Homo sapiens: one gene and its partners. The protein of the gene in region 1 binds, or shares a complex with, the protein of each later gene. Each region holds a gene or a part of one and is shown on either strand. Other genes may lie near its edges.

Region 1 (3,653 bases):
AAAGTGTTGAGGGGAAGAAGTCAGGTAGGGGTTGTGGACTCCACCCACATTCCTAGGACCAAGATGTCAACCCCTTACCTCTAAGAGGCCTGCTTCCTCTGTCTCCCCAACCAGACTCTGACCCCTGAGAAGTGGGACCAGGTCTGGTTCCTGTGTCTCCCTCAGCTGACTGTGGGGCTTCCTTGGATCCTTTAAGCATTTAATCTTCAGGGACTTGTGGCATATGGCATTCTCTTCCTTTTAGCTGGGAACTGAGGCTCACAAAGGCCAGCAAGTGGTCCTGGGTTACTGAGTGAGGCAGTGGGCCAAGCAGACCTAAAAGACTAGGAGTCCCAGCCTTTCTACCTCAAATCCAATTATTCCTCCATCTGACCCTCGGATCAACCTTCCCTGCTGCCTGTTTTGGGCTCCCGGGATATCTTGGTTCCTTACCTTCCCATAGAGGCCTCGGTGAGGGCCAGAAAGAACCACCACAGCTCCTCCAGGCACCAGCCCTTGAGGCTGATCTTCCTTATCTTTCTCTTGCTCCTCATCTGGTCTTGGCATGCGGGAGGGGCCAGTGGGGGTCAAGGCCTGGGCCTCGGTCAGGTTGGCACCCAGCCCTAACCCCTTGGGCCTCAGTGAGTTGACACGGGGCTTCACTACTCTGCAGGGAGGAATATGGGTTTGTTGGAGAGGATGCAACAGTCTTCAACACCTTATTTACTTCCTCTTCCTGCCCAAACCCGCCCCACCCGCCCCATTGACATTTTCTTTTCTTTTCTTTTTTTTTGGAGATGGAGTTTTGCTCTTGTCATCCAGGCTGGAGTACAATGGCTCGATCTCGACTCAATGCAACCTCCACCTCCCAGGTTCAAGGGATTCTCCTGCCTCAGCCTCCCGAGTTGCTGGGGTTACAGGCGCATGCCACCATGCCCGGCTAATTTTTGTATTTTTAGTAGAGACAGGGTTTCACCATGTTGGTCAGGCCGGTCTTGAACTCCTGACCTCAGGTGATCCGTCCTCTTTGGCCTCCCAAAGTGCTGAGATTACAGGTGTGAGCCACCGTGTCCAGCCCCCACCAATATTTTCAAGGTTGCCCTTTCTGATCTCATATTAGGACTGTTTTTGACCTACAGAAACAGCAATTTCATTTGGTTCAACCTAATAACATGCTGCATATACCATCTATTACATAATATCTACAGTGAGATCAGAGGCAGATCGCTGTAACCAAATATACTATTTCTACAGGGGAAATCATATGAACATTCACACCGAGCAGGAGAAACCGGATTATAAATACTCAACATGGTTGGGCATGGTGGCTCATGCCTGTAATCCCAGCACTTTGGGAGACCGAGGTTGGTAGATCACCTAAGGTCAGGAGTTCAAGACCAGCCTGGTCAACATGGGGAAACCCCATCTCTACTAAAAATACAAAAATTAACCAGGCATGCTGGTGCATGCCTGTAATCCCAGCTACTCAGGAGGCTGAGGCAGGACAATCACTTGAACTCAGGAGGTAGAGGTCGCAGCGAGCCGAGATTGCGCCACTGCATCCCAGCCTGGGTGACAGACAGAGACTCCATCTCAAAAAAAAAAAAAAAAAAAAAAAAAAAACGCCAATTCAGGTCATATTTGGCTGCCAATGGGTTATGAAAAAATGTTTGGTTTTCAGAATTATTGAGTTTGCAATTGTGAAGAAAGGGTTGCAAGTCTGCATGACAATAGCAAATGTTTAGTCTACGCTTTCTTGGGGTCAGGGCCTACTGTATGTGCTTTATGTATATAATTTCTTTTCCTTTTCCTTTTTTTTTTTTTTTTTGAGACGGAGTCTCACTGTCACCCAGGCTGGAATGCAGTGGTGCAATTTCGGCTCACTGCAAGCTCCGCCTCCCAGGTTCACGCCATTCTCCTGCCTCAGCCTCCTGAGTAGCTGGGACTACAGGCACCCGCCACCATGCCCGGCTAATTTTTTGTATTTTTTTTTTTAGTAGAGATGGGCTTTCACCGTGTTAGCCAGGATGGTCTCGATCTCCTGACCTCGTGATCCACCCACCTCAGCCTCCCAAAGTGCTGGGATTATATGTGTGAGCCACCACACCCGGCCCTAATTTCTTTTCTTAAAATTAATTAATCTTTTGTAGAGATGGGGCCTCCCTATGTTGCCCAGGCCAGTCTCAAACTCCTGGAGTTAAGTGATCCTCCTGCCTCAGTCTCCGAAAGTGCTGGGATTACAGGCATGAGCCACTACCTGGCCTATGTGTATAATTTCATTTAACTCTCACAACAGACCTATGAAGTCAGTACTATTACCCCCATTTTTCAGATGAGGAAATTGATGTCCCTAGAGGCAAACTTTATATAAATGGGATTCTATTAGAGTTTCAAAGGGCAAATGGGAGTTTAAAACAGTAGTGGAAGGGGCTGCTGAATTAGTTAGGGCGATAATGTATCCTCCCTCCCTGCCTAGGTGGTTCTGGTTTGGCAGTGACCCTGGGGATCTTGATTGCAGCCTGATGATCTGTCTGTCCCCTCGACCCTATCCCAGAACTCACTGATTGAAGGTGCGGCCGATGCCCTCGCCAGGTTTCCAGCCCATGCCCCGCAGCATGGCCAGCCCATAGGCCTCCACGGGGACCGCCTCATAATTAGCCTCCTCTGGCACCTACAGGTTCAGGTAGAGGAAGGAGGGTCAGGCTTTGCTTACACTGGGTCTTCTATTTGAAGTGCACTTGCTGCCCCCCACTGGGAGACCTGCTACGCGTCTTTTCCAATCAGCTCAAGGGTGAGTTTTGATTTCCTCTTTCCATCCCTCACTGTACTCCTCCATGTTCAGTCCTTCAACAAATATAAAGCACCTTGTCTATGGCAAGTACTGTTCTAGGTACTGGGGATGAAGCTGTGAACCAAACAGACAAAAACCCCTACCCCTGCAGAGCTTCTGATCTAGTTGTGGAGACATACTATAAATAAAACCCAGAAAACATGATATGTCAGGTGGTGATGTAAAGAACAAGAAAACAGGGTAAGAAGATGCAGAGGGATGGAGAGGGAGTGCCACTGGGTTGACATTTAAGCAGAGATCAGGAGATGACAGCAGAGGGAGCCATGAGGATATGAGAAGAAAGTGTCCCAAGCTGAAAGCATAGTAACAGCAAAGGCCCTGAGGCCGGACAAGGCTTGGTATGTGTGAGGGGTATCATGAAAGTCACCATGACTGAAATGGAGAGAGTGAGAGTAGACAGCAGAGAAGGGTGGGGAAGAGACCAAATCAGGAGAGCTGGGCAGGAGTCAGAGGACCTTGAGCCAGGTGGGAGCCACAAGAGGGACCAGTGAGGAAATTACTCTAATAGTCCAGATGAGAGATGCTGGTGGCTCAGCCCTTTGCAGTGGTATTGGTGGTGGTGAGAAGTGGTCAGTTCTGGGTGTCATTTTGAAAAAAGATGATAGGATTGTGCTGGCATATTGTATGGGGCACGAAATAAAGAGAGGAATTGAGGATGACTCCAAGGTTTTCTTTTTTTTTTTTCTTGAGATGAAGTCTTGCTGTGTTGCCCAGGCTGGAGTGCAGTTGCATGATCTCAGCTCACTGCAACCTCAGTCTCCTGGGTTCAAGCGATTCTCCTGCCTCAGCCTCCCGAGTAGCTGTGATTACAGGCACGTGCCAC
Region 2 (3,653 bases), on another chromosome or scaffold:
CATATCCACTCTTGTCTTGTTTGCAAAAAGTATATGCCAAAACACAAGAAATTAGCATCTGTGCAGATGCTTTTTAAAAGTACCTAATAATTCTTAACAATCAACCTATTTTAACAAGGATTGGTCCCTCTGTTCAGGTACTTTTGCAACTCTTAGGCTATATGATATAAATAGAAAAAAATCATCACTTGATGTGTTTTTGCAAAGTAACAGGTAAAAACACTTGTTTTTTTCCCTGGAGAGCTTTGTGGCTCCAGACAAAGAATAAATATTCAGAAGTACAAACTTTACAGGAAAAGACAAAATAGGCCAGGGCCATGGGCATCAGATTTGGACATGGTAACTGAAAATGGACTGAAATTTTCCCAATGCTGAAAAGCAGTATGGTACATGAGGTTATGAAAACAGTGATCCCGAAGCCCCTCTCTCAAACTGAGGACTGAACCTGGAACAGTTACAGGCTTCTCTACTTTCACTAGCTGCTTCTCTAAGGGGCCAACAAAAGTGGCCATGTCTTATTTAATGAACCTATCACTACAATAAAAATGTCACAATTCAGAAAACATTACTTTTTACAGACTATCATAATCTGCTGGTCACCCTTTCACTCTGTCAGCTTATCTATGCCTCATTGTCACAGATACAAAAAAGGAAAGCAAAATTTGCCTTTCTAGGTATCACCACATTGCAGCCTTGGGGAGTGGGGAGATAAGGCAACAGGGTGAATAATTAGCAATGCTGGTCTCATCAAGCTCATTAAAATGTATAATGAAAATTTTGCCCATCCCCATTTCTTTGTTTCTAACCTGAAATTTTTTCTCTCTCTTTTTTTAAGAGTCAGGATCTCGCTATGGGGCTGAGGCCAGCCTTGAACTTCTGGGATCAAGTGATCTTCCTGCCTTAGCCTTCTGAGTAGCTGGGACCACAGGCTCATGCCACCACACCTGGCTCTAACCTGAAATTTTCAATATGATCATAATAACCCCAGCGTGTGTTAACCTACAGATTGCTCCTTAAAACTCAATTGCTTTAGCAGCTTTTAAGATCCTCCCCATCCCTTACTACTCACCTTTTAGGCTGTATATCATTCCAGCCCTAAGCTCCAGAGAGCCTGGTTCAAATGGACACTACAGTTTTTTCCATGCGTATTTAATGCTCACAGAACAAACCCCAATAGACCACAACCTTCACTCAGACTAACACAGCATTCTACTTGCCTGGCAGGTTCACAGATCATAAATTCCTCAGAAATCAATCTGCAGAATAAAGCAAGGACAACACTCAGAAGAACCCTGCCTAGAACCTAAATTAAAAAAACAAATCAGCTTTTAAGAGGACACCATGTCCTTTGCTTGGGAGCGCAATGCGACCAAGAAAGAACTAAAAGAGAATATGAAGTCCTCTTATTTAAGATATCAAACCAAAAATCTTCAGGAGAAAAAAAAGTTAACTGGTCTCATAGTAATAAAATGATCCCTTATCATGCCAACGCAAACTTTGATATGTTACCCCAACTCAAACAGCCCACGGCTGGTAAAAGATTTCTCCACCTGCGCAATGCCACAGGGCATTGCTAAAAACAAAACCCTTTTACACATAAAAAAGCCCCAAGATTTTAAAGCAGGAAAGAGGTAGGCTTATAAGTAAACCTACAGAGAGTATTAGATACAAATATTATCTAGCTATTTCATACTTTGAGAGTGAGCAGGGGGCAATAACTGACTACGCTTTGTAGCCAAAGAAAGAGAGACCATGTTTCATATGTGTTTGATTTTTACCTTTACCTGAAGTTCTCCCTGGAGACACAGAAACACGACTTTTTCTTGTACGGTTTGACTGCTGGGGTGTAGGGGAATGCCGAGTTTTGGGTGGTGGAGTTGCAGGAGGTGATGGCCTGTGCCTTCGCCTTGGAGGACTTGCTGAAGGAGATAACCTACGAGTTTTCCGAGGGGGGCTGGATGTCCTCTTGGGAGGCTTCTTTGGTGGTGACCGTGAACGAGATGAAGAGGATGATGAGCTACTCCCAGACAAGGATGCTGACGAACGTCTTCTTCTGTGGAATAAAGTATTCATATTCACTAATTGCACACTTATAAAGAACGGCCTTACAGGTATGAACAGTTTACACAAAAATACAGCTATTTTAATCCGACTTTTGAGTTTATGTAGCTAAGCACATAAATGAGTCCAAAAGAATGGGGGAAAAAACCATAACCTAGGCCAGGAAACAGCTAGTTCTGAGATTAATATAAACAACTTAATCTGATAAATACTTCTGTCTGTGTTCTCTCTCCAGTTATAAAACTTGTCAGGTTGAATGCTATAATAAAATAACTAACTAGTCCTTCTGCCTTAGGAATGGTATTGGTGTTTTGGAGTTTGCATATAAAATTTGGGGGCAAGGTATTTTCCATTTAATAACACAATGTTGAGAAACCTTTAGGTTGCATTTTTAAAAAAGATGTGCAAAACTAAGAATTCATTTAGCTACATAAACTTAGAAGCAGGGGCCTCTCGAATTCTGCGGCAAAATTTGTGTTAAGTTCTGTTGCAATTATGTGTACCTGCAGAATTCACCTTTGGCGGAAGAATTCCTGAGAACCTGAAAAAAAGAAACCCTACCTTAAGTGTGAGATAAAAACTGGCTGAAAGGGAATCTTAAACAATCTGTAAAATATTGACTGCTAAATGGCTGAGTAAGCACAATTTAAACATGCTGTTTGCAAAACTCCAGTATAAGAAATAGCTGTTTCCACTAATCTTGTACTAGGAAGCACCAGCATTACTTTTCTCCTAAAAGGGAATTAGAAAAGTGTGATGCCTGAAAATTGACTGACCATTTACCTCACTAATTTCCTCTATGAGCACAACACATCAATTCTTTGCAACAGTAGTAATAGTTCAATATATCTTAACAACCCCTCCCCAAAGAAAATTTTCAAAATATGGGACTCTGAAAAACCTGACTGCAGAAACAAAGTAACTTTACAGAGCTTACTTGATTTTTCCCCTCTTTATTTCCAAATTGATTTGGTTCCCTGAAAAGAACTTTAAAAGACTCAAACAAAAAATTCTGTCCAAAATAACTGGAAGCTTAATCATCGGCATTTCTTCCCAAGCCAGGTGAAACGTATTGCAAGAAGGCACAAAAACTGCTACCAGTGCACTAGGACTCTACTTTGGGTAGACTTAGCCACTAATTTTTGTTTAAAGTGATATATCCAAGATTCAAATATTTTATCTTATGCTCATTTTAGAATGATGTAAAAAAAAGAACACTGGTACAGTTGGGGTTTTGAAAAATAACCAGACACTAAACTAGTAATAGCAATTATATCTATGGAATATAGATATATTCCCCCACGGATTATGGAAAACTTCCAAGTTATGCTATTTCTGTCTGAATTACTTATAAGCTTCATTACTTCTATAATGAGAATTTTCTGAGAATTTTATAAAAAATTCATAAAAATACTTTTCTCAAAGTATAACAGCAAATGAATTACTTTAATACTGGTAAAAGGAGCTTACTGGCCCTATAATCAGCTACTTTTCAGAAGCCAGTTAAAAGCCAAAGAGAAGGTGGCCAATTCTCTTACTTAGTATGATTTCTTGGTGAAGTCTAGAAGGGTAAAAGTTAACAGAAAAGTATC
Region 3 (3,653 bases), on another chromosome or scaffold:
TCTCATTCAATCCTTATAGCAATCCTTTGAATCCCACTTTTACAAATGAGGAAATTGAGGCTTAGAATAATTTACCAAAGGTTACACAAATGCTAAGTGGCCGAGCTGGGGTTTAGATCTTAATTCATCTTGCCCGAAACCTGTGCTTTTAACGCTCAGTGAGAGATCTCAAAACTGGGTTATATGAAGAATGATGGTAGGATTTTGGGAGAAGTAGAGGGCTATTATGACCTGGATTTAAATTCCAGTTCTGCCACTTGTTAGCTTGTGACATTGAGAAAGTTACTGAACTTCTCCGAATCAGTTTGCTATTCAGTAGTGTGGAGCCTTTCTTTACAGGATTATTGTGAGAATCGAGTTAGATTATATGAGTAAACCACAAAACACAGTACCTTGCACATAGTTGCTACTCTGTAACTAGGATTTATTATGCCAGCAATCTTGAAAGTTTGTCATGTGGACTTACATCACAGGTCAGAACTAGAATGAATTCAAAGAAGTTATAGGAAGGCAGATACGGTACTAGTAAAACTAAGAACTTTCTAACATTTTTGAAAAATGCAGTGGACTGTGTTGTAAGATAATGAGTTCCTTGTCAGGAAGGGATTGGGCGAGTGACCACTTATTAGGAATACTATAGAGAAGATTCTGATTTGTTCAGAAGTTTAGAAGATATGAAATGTGGTTTTAGCTCTTAAAGATTAATGATTCTGTGTACATCTCAGTGGCTCTTTTTGGTTGTATTCAAGAAAACCTATCACTGTGACTACCTACAACAAGAAAGGATTCATAGAAACCCAAAGTCCTTGATTAGTGCTAGGCATGATGGGGGGAGCCACCTATGTTTCCACTGTTAATGTAGAAGTAAAAGTGTAAAAGGAATTTAGTTGTTAGTTTACAAGTGGCTGTTGTGTACCTAGCAGGTTAATAAAAAGGTTTGTAATGAAAAAAATTAACCTTTGCAGGGTAATTGATTAATTAGAGAAGGATCTACAATTAAACCAATACAGTGACAATCAGATGTTTATGGAGCAAACATAACTGAAGACCCCTACTTACTTCTTCATGACCATTTTGGATATATGTACGCCCTTGTGTTAGGAATCGGAATGGTTGTAACTTCAGGTTCTTGAGACAGTGCTTCTTGGCTGGATCCTGTGGATTTCCTAAGATAGGAAATCTTTACTCTCACAGGTGGCAGAGTTTGTGGATGAGCGGCCAGAAGAGGTAAAGCAGATGGAGGCCTTTCGTTCCAGTGCCAAATGGAAGCTTCTGGGAGGTGAGTTCCAACAATAGATAAATCTAAATTTCCATTAGTAGGGGAGATCTTTTTTCCTTTTCTATACTTTTCTTTAGAGGAATGCATAGTTTGTTTTAGCATGTCATTGATCCTGAAAAATAAAGCAGGAAAAAGGAAGTTGGACTTCTTCAGAGGTAGTAAGACATAGGAACTTATAGACCAGATATTCCTCTTTCTCTTATATTTTGGCATTAGGATTACTGAGGTTGGTGACTAATTTGGAGGCCTTTGAGCACCCATTCCTCTTTGACTCAGAATAGGAGAGCACTTGGTGTATAGGCAAGACTTTGGGAGGAGTTTACAAGAAACAGGAGCAGAATTTGGGGACTTTAGCTACCACTATCCTCTTCCACAATGAAGCAACTCATTTCTGGGGGGTCAAGGACCAGTGTATTTTGTTCTGTTTGTGTTAGTAAATTTCTCTCTTCTTTCCTTAAGTATTGGTGTTTTATAGTGCATTACCCTCCACTTGCCCACTTTGGACTCTTCCTAAGCTAATAATCTTAATTTAACTCTCTTTAAAAAAATTTGAGTCCTTGAGAATTGGATAAAAAGCATTTGTTTGTCACATCTGTTTGAGCATAGACTAGTCTTATTTGCCATGATATTCCCCTATCTAGCACAAGGAGCTACCTTTAATAAATATTTGTAGAATTGTTTAATTGCTAGTAGGTATTTGATTTTTGTAGCCTAATCAGAATTCTTTTCCAAAGAGAATCTTTTGGTCTCCATGTCTGTTTGTCTAGGAAGACACACAGACACACACATACACACGGTGCCTTTTCTTGTGTATCTGAATGTTTAGAAGGTCAGTCACACACACACACAGTCACACTCACACTCACTCACTCCTTTTCTTCTGCCTTGCTTTCACTCCCCCATCCCAATTTGTTATTGGAAGTACGCTTACCAATCTCTGACCCTTGCTTCCTTCAGATTTACTGTTAGGCCCCCCACAGACATCATACTTTTCTCTGTGGAGTGGATTCCAATCAGATAGGGCTGTTCCCCAAAGTAAAGGAGTTGACTTGGTTTAATTCATCCATTTAACAAGTATTCATCAGTTCCTACCCAGCTTTTATTTGTATTTGGGCTGTGGAGCTCAATGACAAGAAATAGAGGTAGAGGAAGAACTGGATTTTGAAACTGTTCCAGTTGCTATAGATATTTCATTCTGTGGTGCCTTTGAATATGGAAGGTCTCAAACTATGTATTTTAACTTTAAAGCTTTACATATTTTAAAGATTGCACATGGACTCTGGAGTCAAATAGAGCTGGATTTAAATATTCCTCTACCACTTATTAGCAATATGACTTTGGCAAGTTAATCTTTCTGAGTATCAACTTCCTCATCTATAAATGAAATGACAGTATTTATGTCCTAGGCTTGTTGTGAGAATTGAATCAGGTAATCTCTATGAAACACTGGCACACAGTAGGTGATTGGTAATTACTTGCTCCTTTCTTTTTTATGGTGATTTTTCCCCTCTCTAAGAAAGAGCACAGTGAAATGGATTAAATAGTTAACAGCATTTTATTTTGATATTCACCGTTTTAGTCAATTTACCTATTGAAAGAAGAGTGAGTACAAACTATAAAGTATCTAGGCAAAATATCAGTAGGAGCCACTAGCTGGGAACTCTGCACAAATGAGGTTTTAGAAAGAACATTGGACTGGGAGTTAGAAGACTTGGATTCTAGCCTGTGTCTTCATTTTAGGAGCTGTGACCTTAGGTAAGAAATCACTCAGCTCCTCAGCTGAAAACAGAGGCTGTGGCCTCTGTTTTCATGCTGTAATACAAGGGTACCTGCCCTGCTTACCTTAAAGGGTATAATATGAAAAATGTGCTGAAAATGCTTTGCAAATTTATGACTTGGTAGGCGGAGGGGTTATTCTTAAGATATTCATGAGTGGTGGTTTGCTGCCCCTAAGCAAGAAAACTGTGCAGGCCTTTTGGGCTTTCTGAGCAGTTCTGAGGTATGTGCTACTGGAGCATCTTTTGAAACTGGGTGTGGGGGTGGACAGAGGGACAGAGCATTTGTGGGAATCTGACTCTTTGTTATTTGTGTTTAGGCCACAACGAAGACCTACCCTCAAACAGACATTTTCGTCACGATACCCCGGATTCATCTCCTAGGAGGGTCCGTCATGGTACCCCAGATCCATCTCCTAGGAAGGACCGTCATGACACCCCGGATCCATCTCCTAGGAGGGCCCGTCATGACACCCCGGATCCTTCTCCCCTCAGAGGGGCTCGTCATGACTCAGACACATCTCCTCCCAGGAGGATCCGTCATGACTCCTCAGACACTTCACCCCCAAGGAGGGCCCGTCATGATTCTCCAGATCCTT

Evidence for each region.
Region 2: GPKOW (region 1) and SRRM1 share a complex: the UniProt entries of both Homo sapiens proteins name them as parts of the minor spliceosome.
Region 3: GPKOW (region 1) and BUD13 share a complex: the UniProt entries of both Homo sapiens proteins name them as parts of the minor spliceosome.

The regions. Positions count from the first base shown.
Region 1 is NC_000023.11:49,117,165-49,120,817, forward strand, and holds part of GPKOW (G-patch domain and KOW motifs-containing protein), read right to left. Parts: intron 2,651-3,653; coding exon 2,541-2,650; intron 647-2,540; coding exon 433-646; intron 1-432. UniProt on the Homo sapiens protein: RNA-binding protein involved in pre-mRNA splicing. As a component of the minor spliceosome, involved in the splicing of U12-type introns in pre-mRNAs.
Region 2 is NC_000001.11:24,653,255-24,656,907, reverse strand, and holds part of SRRM1 (serine/arginine repetitive matrix protein 1), read right to left. Parts: intron 2,603-3,653; coding exon of another isoform or gene 2,565-2,602; intron 2,054-2,564; coding exon 1,779-2,053; intron 1,257-1,778; coding exon of another isoform or gene 1,245-1,256; exon of another isoform or gene 1,218-1,244; intron 1-1,217. UniProt on the Homo sapiens protein: Part of pre- and post-splicing multiprotein mRNP complexes. As a component of the minor spliceosome, involved in the splicing of U12-type introns in pre-mRNAs. Involved in numerous pre-mRNA processing events.
Region 3 is NC_000011.10:116,762,988-116,766,640, reverse strand, and holds part of BUD13 (BUD13 homolog), read left to right. Parts: intron 1-1,194; coding exon 1,195-1,279; intron 1,280-3,374; coding exon 3,375-3,653. UniProt on the Homo sapiens protein: Involved in pre-mRNA splicing as component of the activated spliceosome. As a component of the minor spliceosome, involved in the splicing of U12-type introns in pre-mRNAs.